2 separate regions of the Homo sapiens genome follow, and region 2 is linked to region 1. The links come from fine-mapping of genetic effects on gene expression. A gene starts in region 1. The other region holds a variant in brackets. All regions are shown on one strand. Distances are from middle to middle. Region 1 holds the start of DDHD1 (DDHD domain containing 1). Region 2 has its middle 76 kb from the start of FERMT2.

Region 1 (10,852 bases):
GCTGAATTATTCTAAGCTCATGAAATATCTCTAGAATGTTCCATATGCCTTCCCATCTGCTATTACTGAATGCTTTGGCCACTTTCTTGCCAATGTTCCTTACAGACATTCTTTCACCTCTGATGAGGTACTGAGTAATAACAAGAAATTGTGGGCACTCAACAACTGTGCACTGGTTAACCTTACTAACCTGTATGTGAACTAAAAATAAGGTGTATAGTTTTTGTGAGACCCACATATAGTTAACACCTAGTACAATGTGCCAACCACTGTAATAAGGATGTTACATATAATAATCCTCAAAACAAGTCTATGAAGTGAGTACAAACAGGAAGAACACTGCAAACAAGAGAGTTCACTTAACCATTACTCAGCAATGATTAGTTTTTATCTAAAATGTCCACATGCAGCCAGGAGAATATCTAAACATACAATAAAACAAAAATGTTTACTACGATATTTTTTCATATGTAATAATATTGCTCCTCATTAATAGAAGACAAATTCTGTTCTCCTTTCTGATTCATGTACCCCAAATTAGTTCAAATTTTATCTGCTAGTCAAGTTCAAAAGGAAGAATAAAATAAAATCTTTCTTTTAGAATAGGTATAGCTAACTTGTTGGCCTTGACACCCAGATGCAGTGGGCTAAATTAGGCCACAAAAATCTAAATGGCCAATGGATTCATACCACCATTCTACATAGGAACTTACTGGACATTTTTTTTCAAACACTTTTATTACCACTAACCAGACAGTTTCCAAAACAGCTAAAAAGGAAAAGTAAAATGGGGGCAAGGTCAAAAGCTGCAACGTATAGTATGAGTTTTTCTATTTGAAGAAAGGCTGAAGAACCCATACGGGGACTGGACCCTCCTAGAAAGTGTGAAAACTTACACACAGAGACTTAAGAAACCAATTAAAGTTATATGAGATTTTGTGAGAAATGGCAAATTACAGGATAGACAAAAAGCACTACTGTGTTTTTATTATAGCTTATACAAGGGCTTGGACATCCACAGGATTGTATCTTGTAGAGAACTATTTAGAAAATGCTAAAATATAGATAAAAATAGGTGTTGCTCTTATGCTAGTTATAAGCTATAATTGGCCTAATGGCTATTTGCTTTAGGAAAGAAGGTTGGAGAAAGGGAAGTCCACATTACCTTTAGGTTAACTTCTGTAGGCTCCCACCAGTTTTCACCTGATTTATGACACTAGCATTCTACTGATATTCTGCTTCCAACTCTCCAGCTCAACTTTTGCATTGTCATTAATCACATGTAAGTATAAAGAACCTTCTACTGTTTGGTTCCTCATTACTCGCAGGATAAAGGCCAAACTCCTTAGCACTGCATATCTACCCTGTCTCTTTTCCAGCTATTGTCCCAAATGCGCCATTCATGTGCAGGTGCTCCCTTCACAATCTCCATCCTGTCCCTGACCAAACACCATCCCTCACATACTTTGGTCTCTGTGGTTGGTCAAAGCCCAAACCCACCTCATGTGTCACAGTGCCTGCAGGTGTAGACCTCACTTCCTTAAAATGCCACGCAGTTTCAGACCTGTGTCCTTGTGTATGTGCCCCATCTAGCTGGAATGCCCTTCCCTCTATTTCTCTGCTTCATTAAATTCATCCTGTAAGACTCTGTCTTAAATTTTCTGGGACGCTTTCCTGATACCCTCACCCTTGGATGGGTCAGAAGCTCTTTGCATACTGCACTGTATTCCCCCACTAGACTAATGAATGAACTGCTTCATCACTTTCTAGCTAAGTGGCCTTGGACAAGTTCATTAATTTCGCTGAGCCCATTTCTTCATGTATATAATGTTGGTATTAATTTGCTATCACTGTAAAATAATCAATGTCAAAAATCACTTTGTAAACAGTGAAGTACCACGCAGGCATTAACAATTTTATCAAAAACCAAGAGAGCACACAGTATTCTTGGTGAATATACTTCAGTTTAATCTAAGGGTAAGATTCATCTCTTGGTTTCCGTCCCCTCTCCAAGGATACCCTGTATTTTTATCCAACTTTCTGACTCCACTAAGTCTTGGTACTTCTATCTTCAGGAAAAAAAATCTATGATTATGTTTAAGTCATTTGAAGGAAACACCGAGTGGGAAGCTCTGAAAGGGTAAGGATTTTCCTTTTCCCCATCTTTCTTAATGCCTTCACAAGAGTACCGTTATGCACATATAAATATTCTGAATATGAAAGAACTGAATGAATATAAACATACCCTGCCTTTAGTGAGTATATAATCTAAAAAAGTGAATGATGTAACAGATCTCACTAAATCTGACCTTATAAAAATGGTAATGAATGCCTTTAGTATCATCTTAATGTGCAGTAAGAAATTAAATTTCCTGCTATTATTTTATTTGGTGATTTGACACATGTTGGAATTGCTATCTTAGTAAGTCATGCTTAACATATGAATGTTTTAACATTATCAGAATCACTGATGCAATTCAATACCTAGTTATTGAATATATATTGCACTAGGCCCTATCAGAGTACAAAGATAAAGGTGACGGGCTCTGCCGATGGTAAGGTCCTAACATACAGAAAGGAAGCTGTCATCAATCCATCTAATAGAGGGCAGAGTGTTGTATGGAGGATCTAAAGGTTGTCACAATCAATGAAGACATCTAAGTTAGGGCATTGGGCCCACGAAAATTAAAAGTGTATATTACATATTATAATACTGGTGGTCAGTAACTTCTGTGACTATTGAATATCTCCTATATATTACATACGTAATATTTGCTGCATGCACTGGCAGATATTTACGGTCACCTTCCTCCTATTCTAACTATAAACCCGTCTGTGTTGTTGTCTAATAAATACTGTTAACACTCATATCACACGTAAGTACCAACCATAGTTCCAAGCCCTTGAAGTATATTTTCTAATTTACTTTCACAACAATCCCGTGAGGTAGGTACAATTTCTCCCCTTTTACAAATGAGGAAGACGAGGCATAGAAATGGTAATTTTTCAAGGTTAAGATGCAAACACAAAAATATGTAAATGAGGACCTAAGAGACAGAATCCAGTATTCCACCGAGGGAGCGGAGCCACTTGCCAGAGCTGCTTCACGCAGTGCTTTCCACCTCTCCGAACACACCCAGTGGGAACAACCTATCTCCTTTCCCTCCAGGGATTCTTTTACTTTTCCTGAACCCATAACTAAGCTGTTGATTCTCGAGCAGATCCTCTCAAACCTTCCTACTCCAGAAGACGTGCCGCTATTTAAATCATAGGCTGTTTAGGGTAAATGAGACAGAACCAGATCCCCAGGTGGACAAAGCTGGTAGGATCACGAAATTAAACCTCGGGCTGCGGATCCGGTCCTGGATCACTTCCAGGGGATGGCAGCAGCACCCGGCTCACCCAGGAGGCGCTACCCCCGAAGGTATCCAGTCCTCCTGACCCCAGGCAGCTTGGGTTTTGCCATCTGCTCGTTTACCCTTCAGCTGCCGACGCTCCCTGCTCAATCTCCATCCTGCCCCAGCCAAACGCCAGGCCTCACGCGCCTCCCTCTTCGCGGCGACCAGTCCCAAACCCACACCGGTGCGCATCGGCCCATGCAGGGGCAGCCCGTCCTGCCCTAACCCCGGCCCGCTACTCACGGTTCCAGTACACCGGGTAGCACTCTCCTTGGGTCACATCCACCTCGTAGAGGCCGCCCCGCACGCACACAGGCTCGATGTTCACAAGCTCCACCATCTCCGGCTCGTGCCCCGTCGTACTCTGGCAGAAGCCGCAGGCGCGGTCCTCATCGTCATCTTCTCCGGAACTGGAGGCTGGGCCCGTGGGGGAGCACACATGGTCGCCGTCCCGGTCCCCGCCCTGGGGCCGGGCACCCGTGGTCTGCAGCAGGGTCCGGAAGGCGAGCTCGATGCGGAGCGAGTCGTAGCCGATGAAGGGCTTCCAGGTCTTCTTGTCCTCCTTGTAGAACCAGCGTACCTCCTCCGGGCCCAGCTCCGTCACTACCTCATAGCGGTGCCGGGCCGCCGGGCCGCCAAGCCGGGTACGTTTCCTTTCCCCGGGGGACCCTCCTGTCGCGCCGCCGCCCCCCGAGTTCGTCGGGACCAGCGGAGGCTGCTGCGGCGGGTGCAGCGACAAGGAGCTGCCGCCGCCGCCGCTCTCACCCTCGCTGTAGTAGCGCAGCGAGGAGCCCGACTCGGCGGAGCTGAAGTCATAGTTCTCGTCACTGAGGCAGGGGTCCAGCGCGAGGTGGTGGTTGTGGTCGTCGGTGCCCGGCGCCAAATGCAGCCCGGGTTCCCCGCGCAGCAGGGCCAGGGGCACGTCGCCGTCGTCCGGGTCCCCGCCGGGCAGGTGCTCGAAGCAGCAGACGCCGCCGCCGAACGCTGGCCTCGCGTCTGAGCCCAGCTCCCAGGCGCCGCCGCCGCCGCCTCGGCCGTTATGCTCGGGGCTCCGTGGGGACCCGCGGCCCGGGTAATTCATGCTGTGGAGACGCCGCCGGCTGTCCGGCGGCGCGCGGAGCCGTGACCCCCAGCGCTTCCGCCACACATTCAACGCCGCCGCCCTCTCCACCCGAAGTTTCTAATCTTTCAAATCCCGACCCGAGCTGCGGCGGCAGCGGCGACCGCTCCGCCCCCACGAGACCCGCAGCCGCCGCAGCTGCGTTCTGCCGCCGGCCCCATTGTCACGCAGCCCGACGTAGGCGGTGCTTCGGCCCCCGCCCCGCCCCCCGGCCGCGTGCGCCGCCCCGGAAGCCCGGGCTGCACCGGCGCCGCGCGCGGGGTTCCCCCCTGCCCCTCTGGCTGGGAGGGCAGGGTGGTGTCAGGTCGCCCGCCGCTCTTGGGCCTCCTCGGCTCCCTTCCTCCTTCCTTGCGGTCTTCATGCACAGCTGCCTCGGTCCCCCGCTTCTGGAATTCACAGCCCAGATGTGGATAGGCTTTACCCCACTCATCCTTACAATGTGGGTCATGAGCCCAGAGCCTTAAGCTACGTGTTAGGAGGGCCCCAGGATGTAGGATTCAGCATTGCTCTTTTTGACCTTAGGCCCTACTGCGGCCTCGCCTGGACGTTTTGTCACCTGGCCCTGGTGCCTCCAGACAGAACCAGGACGCATAGGTGGGTGGATACGAGGGCACTCCACCCCACACCCATCACTCACCTTGGTGTCACCACTCCCACTGGGAAACTGGAATCTAAACCTTGCTTCATATGCCATCTCATATTATTACTTATCTTTTGATGCTTGGATTTCCTGTTTTCTCAACCTCATTGCTAGGCCCTTGATGGAAACCAAGTCCATGTCAGCCTCTCCCACACAGTGGGTGCGCAATCAGTCTTAGTTGATTATAATGATGTCAAGTCCAACCAGCTGTGGTAAAGAGTGTTCGATTGAGAGGTAGAAAACAACCAGGTTCTAGATTTAGCTTTGCTAACCATCCACAGGCAAATCACATAATCTTCCTGATCTTTTTGGTTTCCTCATCTGTAAAATTAAGATTCTTGGACCAGATGATATCTAAAGTTCCTTCTAGCAATGGAATTCTATGAACTTTAAGGTTTCTTCCAGATTTTTATGCATCTCTGATTCTGTAACTCATATTCTGGGATCAAGTTGAATACAGAGGCTCCCTTATGTGGGTCTTTTTTATTTAAAAAAAATTATTTTGTAAGCACATCACCCTATGTTGAGAATCCAGAGAAAAACCATCTCCAACCTCAGTGTTTTCATTTTAAGAATAGACAGTCTTCACTATTTCTTTTACTCTCTGGTGGAATCAGATTGGTAGGGCAATTTTTCTTGCTCCTGAGATGTAACCTGTCAGACATTATTACTCTGTCATTATTTAAATCAAGACTATCTGAAGTTTGTACAGGGCCTTTGTAGGAATTTGAAAAAAGGCATTGCTTCCTGTGGGCAGATACAGAGCGGTGTTGGAGTTGATGGCTTGTCAAGTAGAATACAGGCTGGATTTTCTGCCCCAATTAGTGCCCTTAGCTGGTTAACCTTGTGCAGTGAACAACCTATCCAACTGTATACTGCAGCTCTGACTGAAAGCATCTAAGATCAGGACCCTCTTTACCACTCAAAAAAAATTTCTGAGTGCCTGCTTCCCAGTTGCTCCTCCAGTATTTCTATTGACAATATGCAGCATATGATATTGGGTATGGGCTTTGGTCTGTTTACTAGCTGTAAAAGCATTCATTCTACAGGGTTTGAATAGGTGTCTGGCCACCTATATGCCAGGCACCTCTATGCTAACTTCTACTATAAGAGAGAATGGGAGAGAGTTCTTTCTTTCTTCAAGGAACTTACAGCCTAGAGGGGGATACAGACAAGTAAACAGATACATTATATTATAGTACAGTATGAAAAGTACTATGAAGGGGATTATAAATAAGGAATATCACAACATTTAAAATATCTCTATTCCTTTATGTTTCTTGATAGAATGTAGCCTAACTATATAACTATCTGGTCAGATTATTTTGGCCAGATTTTAACTCTTGACTACACAATTTCCGTTAACATTATCCTCTGTTAAAAAAAAAAAAAAAAAAAAAAAAAAAAAAAAAAAGAAGTACTAAGGCCGGGCGCGGTGGCTCACGCCTGTAATCCCCGCATTTTGGGAGGCCAAGGCGGGCAGATCACGAGGTCAGGAGATCGAGACCATCCTGGCTAACATGGTGAAATCCTGTCTCTACTAAAAAAAAATACAAAAAATTAGCTGGACGTGGTGGCGGGCACCTGTAGTCCCAGCCACTCGGGAGGCTGAGGCAGGAGAATGGCGTGAACCCGGGAGGCGGAGCTTGTAGTGAGCCGAGATCACGCCACTGCACTCCAGCCTGGGCTACAGAGCGAGACTCCGTCTTGGAAAAAAAAAAAAAGTACTTTCTGCTTTGCATTGAATGAATGTTTCTATTACTTTTAAGTGTGCTTATTTGGTTATTTTGAGAAGATTATCCTCTTGTGGTTCACTGGGGAAATGCCACACTCCTTTTAGGTAGAGTGATCATTTTTGAAGGAAATGTTGATTCTCAACACAACCCAGGTGGCAGAAGAAGGGAATCCTAGATTCTCTGCTGACCTGGTTATCTTGGTCTAGAGCCAGGTGTGTGTAATCTTTTGGCTTTCCTGGGCCACATCGGAAGAAGAAGAATTGTCTTGGGTCACACATAAAATACACTAACACTGATGATAGCTGATGAGCTTAAAAAATCACGAAAAAATCTCGTACTGTTTTAAGAAAGTTTATGAATTTGTGTTGGGCCACATTCAAAGCCATCCTGGGCTGCATATGGCCCATGGGCTGCAGGTTGGGCAAGCTTGGTCTAGACCTTGTTGAGGGGAGATGTCAATCAACATTTGTGGGCTGAGATTGCTTCTGCCCCTTGGAAGTGAGCTTGGGCTATGGCAGACCCATATACTGGGTCCCAGGCTGACAGTGCTCAGAAGATATTTGAGAGCACAATATCTAACTTCATGTGACTGCATGTGTTTATTTCCTTTTTACTCCCTAGCCATCATAGCAAGGCAAAGGTCATGATGTTGTTTTTCTCAACTTTTCTGCTTTAAAAAGTCATGTTTTATCTAATGCCTCCTGTTCCTGCTCTCCTTTTGTTTTCTAGATCATCTTCTCAGGTAATATGATCCTGACCAGAGGGAGATGGGTTGGGGCATCTATTCTAGTCCCCACCTGCCAGAATAGGTGTCAGGTGGCTCCTCACCACTCTACATCATTAGTGTGTACAATGGACACAGCATTATCTGAACTTCCATGGCTCTATGTAAAGCATTCCATTGTATTTTAATAATTACGCAAGACAAGGCCTCTTTCACATAAGGCAAATAAGTGTGATTGATTCAGACTTCTGGCATTACTGGGCCATGCTGCCGCAAGAAACAGGTGCATGTGGAATCAAGCCTGACGGAGTTATTGGTGTGCAGAAAAAAAAAAAGGTAAGCCAGTTGGTTTGTACTACAAAAGACTAAAACAGCTCGTCTGTGTATCCTACCACCTTCCTGTCCCCATTAGGCATATGGCAAGAGCTATCTGGTAACAACGGCCATCTCCTCCCGCGTCTCAAAGATGTTTTCGTGCAATTGTGTGCTGTCTTTCCCTTTTCTTCTTTTCTTAAAGTTTGTCCCTGTTATTCATTTTATTATTTTAGAGATAGGGTCTTGCTGTTGCCCGGGTGAAGTATAGTAGGCCAATCCTAGCTCACTGCAGCCTTGAACTCCTGGCCTCAAGTAATCCTCCTGCTGCAGCCTCCCCAGTAGCTAGTATTACAGGCACAAGCCACCATGTTGTTCATTTTAACCTGTCTTCACGTTTGTAACATTAGGGAATGCTTGATGCCAAGTAATTTATCCTGAGCCAACATCCCACACCTGCACTTGAAATAGCTTCATCCAAAGTGTATGATGGAAGACCCCTATTTAGAATGAAAGAAAGAGGGCAGACATAACCATGCCCCCATCTGCTGTATCTCGTGTTCGATAAGCCATCCACCACAACTTAAATTTTATTTCACTTTTTATTTTTAGGATTACTACTTATCTGGTTTTTAAAGATGAGAGTGTTTTATCTGATGCCCTGACCAAATGAAACAACAACCTAGACTGAAGCAGGGAACATTCGCTGGACATTTCAGGCACTGTGCTAGGCTCTACAGTGAAGCATTCACAGTCTAGTGGTGTCTATAAATAAAACCAAAATGCTAACTTTTAAATTCCTATGAGGAATATAATTGTAATGCCACTATAGCTGCATCACTACCATGGGGTCATTCTCTCCCTACAGACAGATCAATAAACAAAATCAAATTACAATCCAAAGGAAGCAAGGTGGGCAGAAATAACGTAGGGATTCATGATGAATAAAGTCATTAATCCTTCCATTTATTCATTCAACAAATATTTATTGTCTAGTGCTATTGTGTTTTTATTTTTAACTGAAATTACACTTAAAATTTAGAATTATGAAATGCATTTATTTAAAGATTTATAAGAGGCCTATCCACAAAACCATACTTACCAAAACCCTATAAAAATGTTTTCTATTCCTTTTGGAAATAAAGGTCAGTGGTGGTGAAGGTATATATTCAAATGAAAGAAAGTATAAATCAATACAACATTGATGCATACTCTGTGGAGGCAGCCACAAAATCCTCATCAGCTTGTTTATATCAGACAGATTTGGCCATCTTCCTGCCCTTTCATTATAGAAAAGTGAGTTGGGCCATAGCTATTGGCTGCTGTGAGGCCCACATTATGCACCCATTGTAGATGTATTTAATGACTTCTGCGCTCTAGGATTTTTTCCTACCTCCACAGGTAAGTTGAAAGTACATATTTGTTCACAGACTCATATGAGCCTTCAATAAAAAGTAATTGATAATCATAATATGGTGCTGAGCAAGACTTAGAGGCAGCACCTTGCGTATGTGTATTGTCATATATAAGTTAAAAAGGAAAGAAAAGAGAAGCTTTGTTCCAATAAGGATTTATTTCCACTAATGTAACTGTCAGTAATTTGCTGAGCATTTAAAAGACTGAACAGCAGAATTGATTTACTGTTTTTGCAACTGCTGCTTAAAAAAGTATGTTTATCCTTACATCATAAGTCAGCAACTCATTTAAAGTTTCAGCTTGAATAAAATATGATTCTAGGCCGGGTACGGTGGCTCACGCCTGTAATCCCAGCACTTTGGGAGGCCAAGGCGGGTGGATCACAAGGTCAGGAGTTCGAGACCAGCCTGCCCAACATGGTGAAACCCCATCTCTACTAAAAATACAAAATTAACTGGTCGCGGTGGTGCGTGCTTGTAATCCCAGCTGCTCGGGAGACTGAGGCAGGAGAATCACATGAACCCAGGAGGCAGAGGTTGCAGTGAGCCGAGATCATGCTACTGCACTCCAGCCTGGGCAACAAGAGCGAAACTCCATCTCAAAAAAAAAAAAAATATATATATATATATAATAATCATACATATAATAATCATTATATATACATATATATGATTCTAGACTCACAAGCTCCCAAATTCTTTTTGTGGGTCTCCCATTGGGTTACTTGAACCATACTAGATAGCCATTAGGATAATACCATTAATAAATGTAAATGGCATGGTAGAAAAGCAAAATTCTTCAGAAATTTTATCTTCAAGATTCAGCAACATATATTTTAAATATGAGAAATTAGTAACAATGGCCCTGCATTTGTGACTCCTTCACTTCTAAAGTTTAGAACATCAGATTCATACTAATTCTTAATCATCTGTAAGAACTCACAAATAGTCCTTCATTTGATTATTCATATTACTCTGCTTCTGAGGTTAACAATTATAAACTTTGATCACTCATATGACTGTACTTCTCAGGTTAGAAATTATAAACCTCTGGGCCAGGTGGATCATGCCTGTAATCCCAGCACTTTGGGAGGCTGAGGCAGGAGGATCACTGGAGCCTAGAAGTTCGTGACCAGCCTGGGCAACATGACAAAACCTTGTCTCTACCGAAAACAAAACAAAAAACAAAAACAAAAATTTCCCAGGCGTGGTGGTGTGCCTATAGTCCCAGGTGCTCAGGAGGCTGAGGTGGGAGGATTGCTTGAACCCGGGAGGCAAAGGTTGCAGTGAGCCGAGATCATGCCACAGCCTGGGTGAGACTGATATCTCATCTCAAAAAAAAAAAAAAAAAAAAAAAGAAGGAGAGAGAGAGAGACAGGTATTAATTATAAACCTTTAGAAGATATAGAGGAACAGTGTATTCATTTCCTAGGGCTGCACTGCATGGTTTAAAACAACAGAAATGGCCAGGTGTGGTGGCTCACGCCTGTAATCCCAACACTTTGGG
Region 2 (11,096 bases), 130 kb before region 1:
CACTTCAGAAAAGCCCTGTTAACCATCCCTCCATCACGTTACATCACTGTAACACTTTAAATCCAGCTACTCTACCACCTCTCCCTGCTAATGAAGAGCTTCACTCCATTTCTCATCATTGCCTTAACACTGTAGAAATGGTCTCAAAGCCACGAGCAAACCTCTTAGCTACCCCTTTGGACAACCCAGACTTACTTCTGTTTTGTGATGGCTCTTGTAGATGAAATTGCCAAGGAAACATAACAACTGGCTAGTTTTCCCACATGAAACACTTGAGGTGTGCTCTTTGCTCATTGTAAGATCAGCCCAAGCTGCTGAACCGATAGCTGTCACTCAAGTTTGCACACTGGCAAAAGAAAAAATGGCCACTCTTTACACCGACTCCAGATATGCCTTTGGAGTCTGCCATACTGTTGGCATAATCTGGAAATGCCTTGAATTTTTAACTTCTGCTGGTGCTTCTATTGCCAATGGGCATATAATTGTTGATCTATTACAGGCTATTTTCCTCCCTACTAAAATTACTGTTGCTTATTGTTCAGCCCATACTAAGGAGTCTGGTATTGTATCTCTTGGGAACAATAGGGCTGACAAGGCTGCTAAATACACAGCCAAAAATGTGCCACCTTTTTTTTTTTATATCTAGTTTCTAAACCTGCCTTTATCTCTAGCTGATACTATTGATTATCAGGCAGATGCTCCATGATCTGAAAAGACAAATGGATACAAAAGCATTCAAAACAATGATCAGATGGATTATACATTGGGCCAAAAGGATTTCCTATGGCCCCCATTCTTTCAGCCTTTTGGCTTGCACTTGTCTCCCATCAAATGGGATGTATGTGCAGATGGAGGATAGTTAAGGACCCAAAAGATAAATGGGCACCAGGTGTGGTGGCTCATGCCTGTAATCCCCGCACTTTGGGAGGCCGAGGTGGGTGGATCACCTGAGGTAAGGAGTTCGAGACCAGCCTGGCCAACATGGTAAAACCCCATCTCTATTAAAAATGCAAAAAATTAGCTGAGAATGGTGGCGGGCACCTGTAATCTCAGCTACTTGGGACGCTGAGGCAGGAGAATTGCTTGAACCGGGAGGCGGAGGTTGCAGTGAGCCAAGATTGTGCCATTGCACTCCAGCCTGGGCAACAACAGCGAAACTCCGTCTCCAAAAAAAAAAAAAAAATTATAATTGGTTCTGCCCTGGCACCCACAAAATTTCTGACCGAATTATTTCCCAGCATACTGCTTGTAAATCTCACCAAATTTCTGTAGGAAACCAATATTCCTCAGGAAGTCCTTGAGGCCTACATTGCCTCTTGTGGCACTCCAAGTGGATTTCATAGATTTACCTCCAGCTTTAGGCTATTCTCACTGTTTGCTTATTGTTTCTATGTTTAGTGGATAGACTGAACGCCATCTGACTAGACGTGCTGATGCCACGACAGTGGTGAATAAATGAATAAGATTATTCTTTGTTTTGGCATTCCTTTATGAATTGAGTCAGACCAAGGAATTCATTTTATAGCAGAAATAAACCACTTGCTTGCAAAAACTTTGGGATACTCATTAAAATTTCATACCCTGATCATCCCTTATCCTCAGGGCAAGTGGAACAGAAAAAGCTAGACATAAAAAGGACTTTGGGGAAAGAAGCATTGGAGGGACTGGGTTGTTTTCACTGCCCTAGTGAGCATGAGCTTGTGTGTGGTGTGGGGAGGGCTTTAGGAGCTGAGGCAGCTGGTGCTTGGTGGGGGTGGGGGAACCACAGTCCACCAGAAAAAGCAGATAAAGTATAAGTTCCCCCACATCTTTAAAAAAAGATTTTATTTAAAAATTTTTTAGAGATAGGGTCTTGCTCTGTCACCCGGGCTGGAGTGCAGTGGTGTGACTTTGACCTCCTGGGCTCAAATGATCCTCCTACCTCAGCCTCCCAATAATTAGGACTACAGGCACGTACCACCACACCCAGCTAATTATTTTGTTTTTTATACAGATGGGGGTCTTGTTATGTTGCCCAGGCTGGTCATGAACTCTTGCTGCCTCGGCCTCCCAAACTGTTGGGATTACATGCCCATGTGAGCCACCATGCACAGTCTCCCACGCTTACTTAATCAAGTCTTCAAGTAACAGAAGCCTCACCTTCATATGGAGACAAGTGGTGAGTTACTGGCCCATCTGAATGACTTACTGTTTGTTCATTGATTAGCAGAAGAGTCCAGGACAAATGCCTGTGAGAATAAATGTGGAGTCATCAAAAAGGAGCATGTACCGGCTGCAGCACAGGGAATTCTACAGAACAGAGGCTCAAAATCAACACATTCTTGAAAATTGTATGATGCATTATCTTAGATGGTAACAGGTTGTAAAAGCACTTTTTATGAATCAGCTAATATTGTGGATTATTAAAATATTGGCTAGGTAGAAACAAAAAATTTTAGGAAAATTCTATCAAGAGACTGCACTGAAATGGCCAGAAGCGTTCCCCTAAATACATAAAACCTGTAATACTTGAAATAGAAGGCATGAATTTACCCCTTTGGAAACAATACTTGGTTGTTCTATGCCTACTGGTATCTCTAAGCCTTCTATTCTTGAATTGAGTGAACCATTATGGAGACTTAAGTGAACAATTCGATGCTATGACTAGTTATATACAGGAACTGACAAGTATACTTGGAGCATATCAACAGGTAAAAATGACACAGCCAGCCTCTGCCAACTGACAATGCTTGCCATCTCTTTTGACGAGGAGATCTATGTACATCAAGGTTTTTAGAAGACATTACCTAGCTAGGAAGGACCTTATGAAGTACTGCTAACAACTTATGCCGCTATCTAAATAAAATAAAAATCCTCATGGATTCCTGCAAGCCATGCTAAGCTAGGTCAGCACTCTTAGGACAATTGAGAGACCCCAGATCAGCACTCTCAGGACAATTTGGAAGACCATCCCTGCAAGTGACCTTAAAGTAAGGATTTCCAGGGTTAATCCCCAGGCTCAGGAAGCAGACAGCATCATGAAGTAGACAATTTTTTCCCAAGGTCATTAAGAAACTTCACTTCCACCGATTTTCTCCCCCATTATGTCTCCTTACTCCAAAACAAAAACAAAAATACCTCTTCCTTTTAATGAAGACTCCTTTTCTTTGGCCATTTATTTAAAGGCTGACTGGAGATTGCGCGTCTCTATCTATCCTGTTTTCACTCTGACTCTCCGCTATGGGCTCTCTTCCAAACTCTATTATGCTTTTATAAACTCTTCCAGTTTTCTCAATAGGCCAAGCAGAAACCTGACATCCTCCTACACCAGTTTCCCAAACCCTGGCATATTAGTTAATCAGATTGCTGTCTATGTCCAACATCTAGATCACACAAAAGAACCTGAACTAGGCCAGGCACGATGGCTCATGCCTGTAATCCCAGCACTTTGGGAAGCCAAGGTGGGCGGATGACTTGAGGCCAGGAGTTCGAGACCAGCCTGGCCAACATGGTGAAACCCTGTCTCTACTAAAAATACAAAAATTAGCTGCCGTGGTGATGCATGCCTGTGATCCCAGCTGCTTGGGAGGCTGAGGCAGGAGAATCGCTTGAACCCAGGAGGCAGAGGTTGCAGCGAGCCAAGATTGAGGCACTGTACTTCAGCCTGGATGACAGAGCAAGACTCCGTCTCAAAAAAAAAAAAAAAAAAACCTGAACTAATTTTAATTCCTGCCAAGGAATGACAGGTACTTGCAAAAAGCTGGTAGACCAAGACTGGAAAATAGATCTATGACAAGATACGGCATTTATCACCAAGAAAACAATGTCACTCTACTTCTCCTCTTGGTGAGTTACTTGGATATGGAAAAACTTTCAGGGAAGCTCAAGGACTGTCCTTTGCTCAGGTAAAGCCATTAGAAGGGAATTTTCCCCTTTGTCTTGAAAACAGGAGTGGTACTGGGCCTTTCCTGTGTGACATACCAAGGCAAGACATACCCTGTGGTTTGATTTCACAGGCAGCATCCTCAAGCCTCTTATGAAGGTCATAAATGGTCCTGACACTGACTCTTACGGTACAAACACTTGTCAAATTACCAGATGTTACAGCTGAACCACAAGCCACCCTTGTGTAACCTGGGGTAGCTCATCTGCTTTCCACATTAGGCTGCCAAGCAAGCTGGTGACCCATGAAAGCTGGTTGGTGGCATAGTTTGAAGACCTGAGAGCCACAGAGCCAATGGTGTGTATTCCACTGTGGATCTAAAGACCTGGGAACCAGGCGTACTGAGGGCAGGAGAAGATAAATGCCTCAGCTCAAGCAGTCAGGCAGAGGGAGTGAATCCTTGTTTTCTCTACTCAGGCCCTCAATGGATTGGATGGTGCACATTCACATTGCGGAGAATAATTTCCTTTACTCAGTCTGTCAATTCAAATGCAAATCTCTTCTGGAAATACCCTCATAGGCACACCCCAGAAGTCATATTTAACCAGATATTTGGGCATTCCATGATCAAGTCAAGGTGACACATCAAATTAACTGTCACAGGATCTGACAAAACTTTTCTTAATATCTCTTATTTAAGTGGCAGGATGGAGGTCTGTGTACTGGGTTATTCAGCAATTAAGAGGACCATAGCTGGTTGGTTAGCCATTTCCTTAAGATTAATGTATGTTCTTTAAATCAGAGGAAAGCCTGGTTACAATGATTGCTTCTGACCCTATCCTGTGCAATTCTTTAAGTCTGGAGAAGCACAAAAGACTATCTAAAAAAGTGTGTAGCAGCAGAAACCTGGAAATGTAAGCTCACTGGATGGCAAAATCACTGGATTCTCAACTGATGAGCCCAAATTAACAAAGTGAAAATTTAAATATTATATATATA[C/CAT]ATATATATATATATATATATATTTTTTTTTTTTTTGAGACAGGATCTTGCTCTGTTGCCCAGGCTGGAGTGCAGTGGCAAGACCTCTGCTCAGTGCAGCCTCAACTTTCCGGGCTCAGGTGATCCTCCCACCTCAGCCTCCCGAGTAGCTGGGATTACAGGTGTGTGCCACCATACCTGGCTAAGTTTTTAATTTTTTTTTTTAGAGATGGGGATTTGCCATGTTGCTCAGGCTTGTCTCAAACTCCTGGGCTCAAGTGATCCACCTGCCTTGGCCTCCCAAAGTGCTGGGATTATGGCATGAGCCATTGTGCCTGGCATATAATAGATATTCATAATTCAGGTGGTCCAGCATCCAAACCCTTTTATTTATTTATTTATTTATTTATTTATGTATTTATTTAGAGACAGAGTCTTGCTATGTCACTCAGGATGGAGTGCAGTGGTGCGATCACAGCCCACTATAGCCTTGATCTCCTAGGCTCAAGTGATCCTCCTACCTCAGCCTCCTGAGTAGCTCGAACTACTTGTGTGTACCACCACTCTTGCCTTTTTTCTTTGTAGAGACTAGGTCTCACTGTGTTGCCCAGGTTGATCTTGAACTCTTGGACTCAAGTGATCCTCCTGCCTTGGCCTCTCAAAGTGCTGGGATTACAGGTTTGAGCCACTGTGCCCAGCCTAAACTCACTTTATATGTGCATGTATTACTTGCAAATTATTCTAGCTTCTATGTGGAATGTTGAGAATTTAAATACTTGAGGATATTTTGCATTTGTGAGAAATAAAAATATTGAAGGTAATTAAATCCTTTTGTTAGCCTGTATGAGGTTGGTGCAAAAGTAATCGCAGTTTTTGCCATTGAAGGTAATGGCAAAAACCGCAATAACTTCTGCACCAATCTAATACATAAACTGGTTCTACAACTCCCAGGATCCATTGGCATCAAGAATTGAGAGAAGTTGTGGGGAAATGGAGGCCTTCTTACCTTTAACTCTCCTTGGCACAGCACAAAGGACCAAGGCTTCTCCCTGGGAAATACAATCTGGGTACTCAGTACTGGCAGGATTTAGAGTCAAACAAGAGCTTCATTCAGGCTAATGAGAGTTGGTACAAGTAATATTGCTGTAAGGATTCTTCTGACTACTGAGCATGCATATTAACCAGCTTAACTTTTGTTCCTTGTTTTTGCAGTTACAGCAAGTGATCTGGTTTAAGCCATCTTCCCTACTCCTTTTCCTGTTTTGTGACACGTATTTCTGTAGGCTGATTGAGCTGCACCAATAGAACAGGCTGTGAACTCCTAAGGTGGGAGTAGGGAGGTGGAAGGAGAGAGGCTTGGCTTCTTGAGTTTTCTGTATCACCTCGGACAATTGCAAGCACATAGGAAATTACTGTTGGATTGAATTGAACCAAACTGGAATGGAACTAACTGACCCGTAAGATGAAAACCACATACAAACAAGGAATGCTTGTGTTGGGGTTCAGAAAAAGATCCCTAAAATATGATACTTTGACATGCTGAACTAAAGAAGAAGCCTCAAGGTCTCTCTGACCTCCCTGCCCGCTTCTCTTTCAATACTCTCTCTCTCCCAAAGCACAGGATGTAGCTGTTCTTGGAAGTTCCCTTATCTACCTAGAAACTGGACCCATGAAAGAGAAACACAACTGTCTTTGATCCCCTCCCTGAAATTTCATAAACCAGAGATTAAAACTCGTATCACCAAGGAAGAGGCTGAAAATTAAACACCACATCTAGAGCTCAGCTGAACTTTTTTCCAAACTATTTTCTGTTCTCTGGCTCCATTAAATTCCCCCAAATAATTATTTGATAGTCATTGTCTGAGCATTGGACCCATTCATTTCCCCTAAAAATAATTTATTACCTGCTATAGTTTGGATATTTGACCCTCCAAATTTCATGTTGAATTTTTTTTTTTTGACAGAGTCTCACTTGCTGCTCAGGCTGGACTGCAGTGGCACGATCTTGGCTCACTGCAACCTCCACCTCCCAGGTTTGAGCAATTCTCTTGCCTCAGCCTCCTGAGTAGCTGGGACTACAGGCGCACACCACCATGCCCAGCTAATTTTTGTATTTTTAGTATGGACAGGGTTTCACCATGTTGGCCAGGCTGGTCTCGAACTCCTGACCTCAGGTGATCTGCCCGCCTTGGCCTCCCAAAGTGCTGGGATTACAGGCATGAGCCACCGTGCCTGAACTTCATGTTGAAATTTTATCCCCAATGTTGGAGGTAGGGTTTAATGGGAGGTGTCTGGGTCATGGGATGGATCCCTCATGAATGTCTTGGTGCTGTCCTTGAGGTAATGAGTGAGTTCTCGCTCTATTAGCCCTCAAGAGAGTTTCCCCAAGAGCTAGTCGTTCAAAAGAGCCTGGCATCTCCCTCCCATCTCCCTTGCTTTCTCTCTCATCATATGATCTCTGCACACTGGTTTTCCTTTGCCTTTCACCGTGAATGGAAGCAGCCTGAGGCCCTCACCAGAAGCTGAGCAGGTACCAGTGACATGCTTCTTGTACACCCTGCAGAACTGTAAGCCAAATAAACCTCTTTTCTTTGTAAATCACTCAGCCTTGGGTATTCCTTTATAGCAACACAAATGGACTAAGACACTACCCCTCAGAATGGCCATATTTTCCCCATCTCCTTTTCCCCCATGAAGGAGAGTATATAAGCATATGGACCTCATTGGGTTATTAATCATTCTCCTGCAATTCCCCTGTGCTTATGCATATTAAATAAACATGTATACCTTTTTCTCCGAATAATCTGCTTATTGTCATTCATTTTCAGTGAACCTTTAGAGGGTAAAGGGGAAACTTTCCCTTGGTCTCTACACTTGCTAGATATCTAAACAATTAAATTAATAGATAAAGCAACTTTGGACAGGGAGAGAAACTGGAAATGTGTTTTTCCTTGATCTTCACATTATAGCCTGAACTATTGTATAATAATTTATTAAGAATTAAGGGATGCCAGGCGCTGTGGCTCATGCCTATAATCTCACCACTTTGGGAGGCCGAGGCTGGTGGATCGCCTGAGGTCAGGAGTTTGAGACTAGCTTGGCCAACATGGTGAAACCCTGTCTCTACTAAAAATACAAACAATAAGATGTCAGCTGAAGCACCTTTTCCTTTGAAATTCAAAGAAAATTAGCTTGAACTCGTGTCCCTCCTCAGGAAAATCTGGGTGATTTATGCATTTTCCAGTTACCTCAGTATTTGGAGAATTAATTTTATTTATATTTATTTTAGAGATAGAGTCTCACTATGTTCCCCAGGCTGGACTTAAGATCCTGGGCTCAAGCAATCTTCTTGCCTCAGCCTCCCAAGTAGGTGGGACTACAGGTGTGTGCCACTGTGCCTCCCCACGTGCTGTTACTCTCCTGTATTGCTTTGTCCCAACTGAGGACTCTCAGCCTTTCCGCCCTTAACCCCCTCAAAACAATAATACTCACACAAGGCATTTGTGTATGAAACTAACTTTACTAAAGGCTGCTTGGTTTCCCTCTCCCTTTTCACAGCTTTTTACTTTTTCTTTTCACATGCTCCTATCTTAAACTTACCTGCTTCTATGATTCTCTGCCCTTCACTTTACTTCCTTCTTTATACGCAGAACTATTTTTAAGTTTGAGGTACATGTGCAGGTTTGTTACATAGGTAAACCTGTGTCATGTGGGTTTGTTGATACAGATTATTTCATCACCCAGGTATTAAACCCAGTTCCCATTAGTTATTTCTCCTGATCCTCTCCCTCCTCCAACCCTCACCCTCCACCCTCTGCTAGGCCTCAGTGTGTTGTTCCTCTGTGTGTGTCCATATGTTCTCATCATTTAGCTCCCACTTATGAGAACATGTTGTATTTGGTTTTTCTGTTCCTGCACTAGTTTGCTAAGGATAATGGTCTCTAGCTCCATTCATGTCCCTGCAAAGGACGTGATCTCATTCTTTTTATGGCTGCATAGTATTCCATGGTGTATATGTACTACATTTTCTTTATCCAGTCTATCATTGATGGGCATTTAGGTTGATTCCACATCTTTGCTATTGTGAACAGTGCTGCAATGAACAGACACATATATGTGTCTTCATGATGGAATGATTTATATTCCTTTGGGTATACATCCAGTAATGGAACTGCTCGGCCAAATGGTAGTTCTGTCTTTAGGTCTTTGAGGAATCACCACGCTGTCTTCCAAAATGGGTGAACTAATTTACACCCCCACCAACAGTGTATAAGCATTCCTTTTTCTCCACAACCTCACCAGCATGTTATTTTTTGACTTTTTAATAATAGCCAGTACAGAACTATTTTGATTCTTCTTTTCCAGACCGGCCCTGTCCTATCCCAAAACTCATTAGTGTGTTTTCCAAAACAATGGCTCATCTAAGGAATATGAACCTTGAGCTATAAGGAGAATTGCAGTCAAAGGCCTTTCTTTTCAGCCTTTCTGAAGAAGAGCATGGGGACAGATAGTTAAATCATCCTACTTTTAAAGATTGATCCTTTATTCCTCTAATTCTGAGTAAGGCATTTCTTTCCTAATCTCACATCCTACAATCTCCTATCTGCCTCTGGGATAGTAATCATATTAATATTGCTCAATACTCTCAAAAGAATAAGGAACATTTAAGTTCCTTGGTATGTAGACTAGTATGTAAAGTTATCAGATTATGCCTGTTATTTCTGCTACTAATGTTTTTTGTTTCTTAAAAAATAAAACACACTTTTGAATAGGTAACTCATGCATACAATTAAAAATTCAAAAGGCATAACAAACTGCATATAGCTAAAAGCAAGCATACCTTCTACTCCTGTCCCTCAGTTATCTAATTCTCTTTTGCAGAGGTAACCACTAAGAGTAATTTCTGGTTTGATCTTTCAGAGGTATTATATCCTATGTCTTCCTGACTGCCTATAAATGGCATAAATTCTAAACACTCTACACTCTACATTCTATACATCCTGTTTTGCATTTGGGTTTTCACTTAACCACATAGCTTGGGGACTCTGCCATACCTGTACATATAGAACTGCCTTATCTTTAATTTCTTTAATCTATACACAATTCCACCTTATAGAGGTACCATAATTTCTTTAGCTAATCCCAATCAATGGAATTTATATTGCTTTTAATATTTTGCTGTCAGTAACAATTCTGTAACTAATTACTTTATATGTAAGTCATTTTTCAGGAGTGGTAATATTTGAAGGACAGATTTGTAGAAGCAGAATGGTTGGGTTAAAGGGTATGGGCATTTTCAGCTTTGATAGATATTGCCAAACTGCCCTCCAAAAATGTTGTACCTATTCACATTTCCACCAGCAAATGTTTGGGAGTAACTTTCCTTGTACCCTCACCAACAGAGCATGTTATAAAGCCCTTAGAACTTTGTCACTCTTATAGGTGAAAAGTGGTACCTCACTCATTTTTTTCTTAGGCTCTTCTTATAAATGATTTGAAATGCCTTTATCATATACTAAAATTGGCTATGTATCTGACATATTTCTGGGCTTCCTCATCTATTCTATTGGTCTCTCTTGTCTCTTCATACACTATTACTATAGTGTTTTGGTCACAATAGCATTATACTATGTTTTACTATCTAGTGGGCTAATTGTCCTCATTACTCTTCTTTCCCCCTTGGAAATTTCCTGAATATTCTTATTTTTTCTATACAATTTTAAGACACAGCTTGCCCAGTTCCAAAAAAGATCCTGTTGCATTTTTGAGATTGTATCATATGAACAGATTATTTCAGATACTATTACTCACTTGGTAAAGCTTACTGTTGAAGCTTACCATTTGTCCATATATTTTGAGTTACATCTTCCTTATGCTTATCACAACAGTGATGCCTTACATAAAATGTTATCTTATTAATTCTTTATAACCACCTTGGGAAACAGGTAGGGTAGTTAGAAGATTAGGCATTAGCTCAAGATTATATATGATAGACCATCCTAATCCAGTTTTATGTCTACTACATTGTAATACTTCCACAGAGATTTCATACAAATTAAAAAGACAAAACAGACTTTCCTACTAAGGGTTCTATTTTCCTATTGCAAAAAGCCAGCAATATGCAAGTACAATTCTGCAGTGTACTTCTTGTGTGACAATCTGTGGCCAAGCACTGTGGAATGCATTCCAATCAGGGATTAACAATCTCAAAAGAATGTTGAAACCAGAGTTGGCTTGAATGTTGTACAATGACACC

What was found.
Region 2: its variant is fine-mapped to the expression of DDHD1 in prefrontal cortex (ROSMAP, PIP 0.95).

The regions. Positions count from the first base shown.
Region 1 is chr14:53,148,620-53,159,471 of GRCh38, forward strand. It overlaps DDHD1 (DDHD domain containing 1), which reads right to left and starts at 4,704. Exons shown (of 13, transcript NM_001160148.2): 1 at 3,642-4,704. The coding sequence starts at 4,479. DDHD1-DT (DDHD1 divergent transcript) reads left to right here and starts at 4,735. Exons shown (of 3, transcript NR_110062.1): 1 at 4,735-5,112; 2 at 7,624-7,954; 3 at 8,543-8,909. RefSeq lists enhancers at 3,460-3,509, 3,530-3,729 and a silencer at 4,550-4,879.
Region 2 is chr14:53,021,294-53,032,389 of GRCh38, forward strand. No RefSeq gene overlaps it. Among named protein-coding and RNA genes, the nearest start is that of FERMT2, 76 kb to the left of the region's middle. The variant C/CAT (reference allele first, on the strand shown) is at 4,862.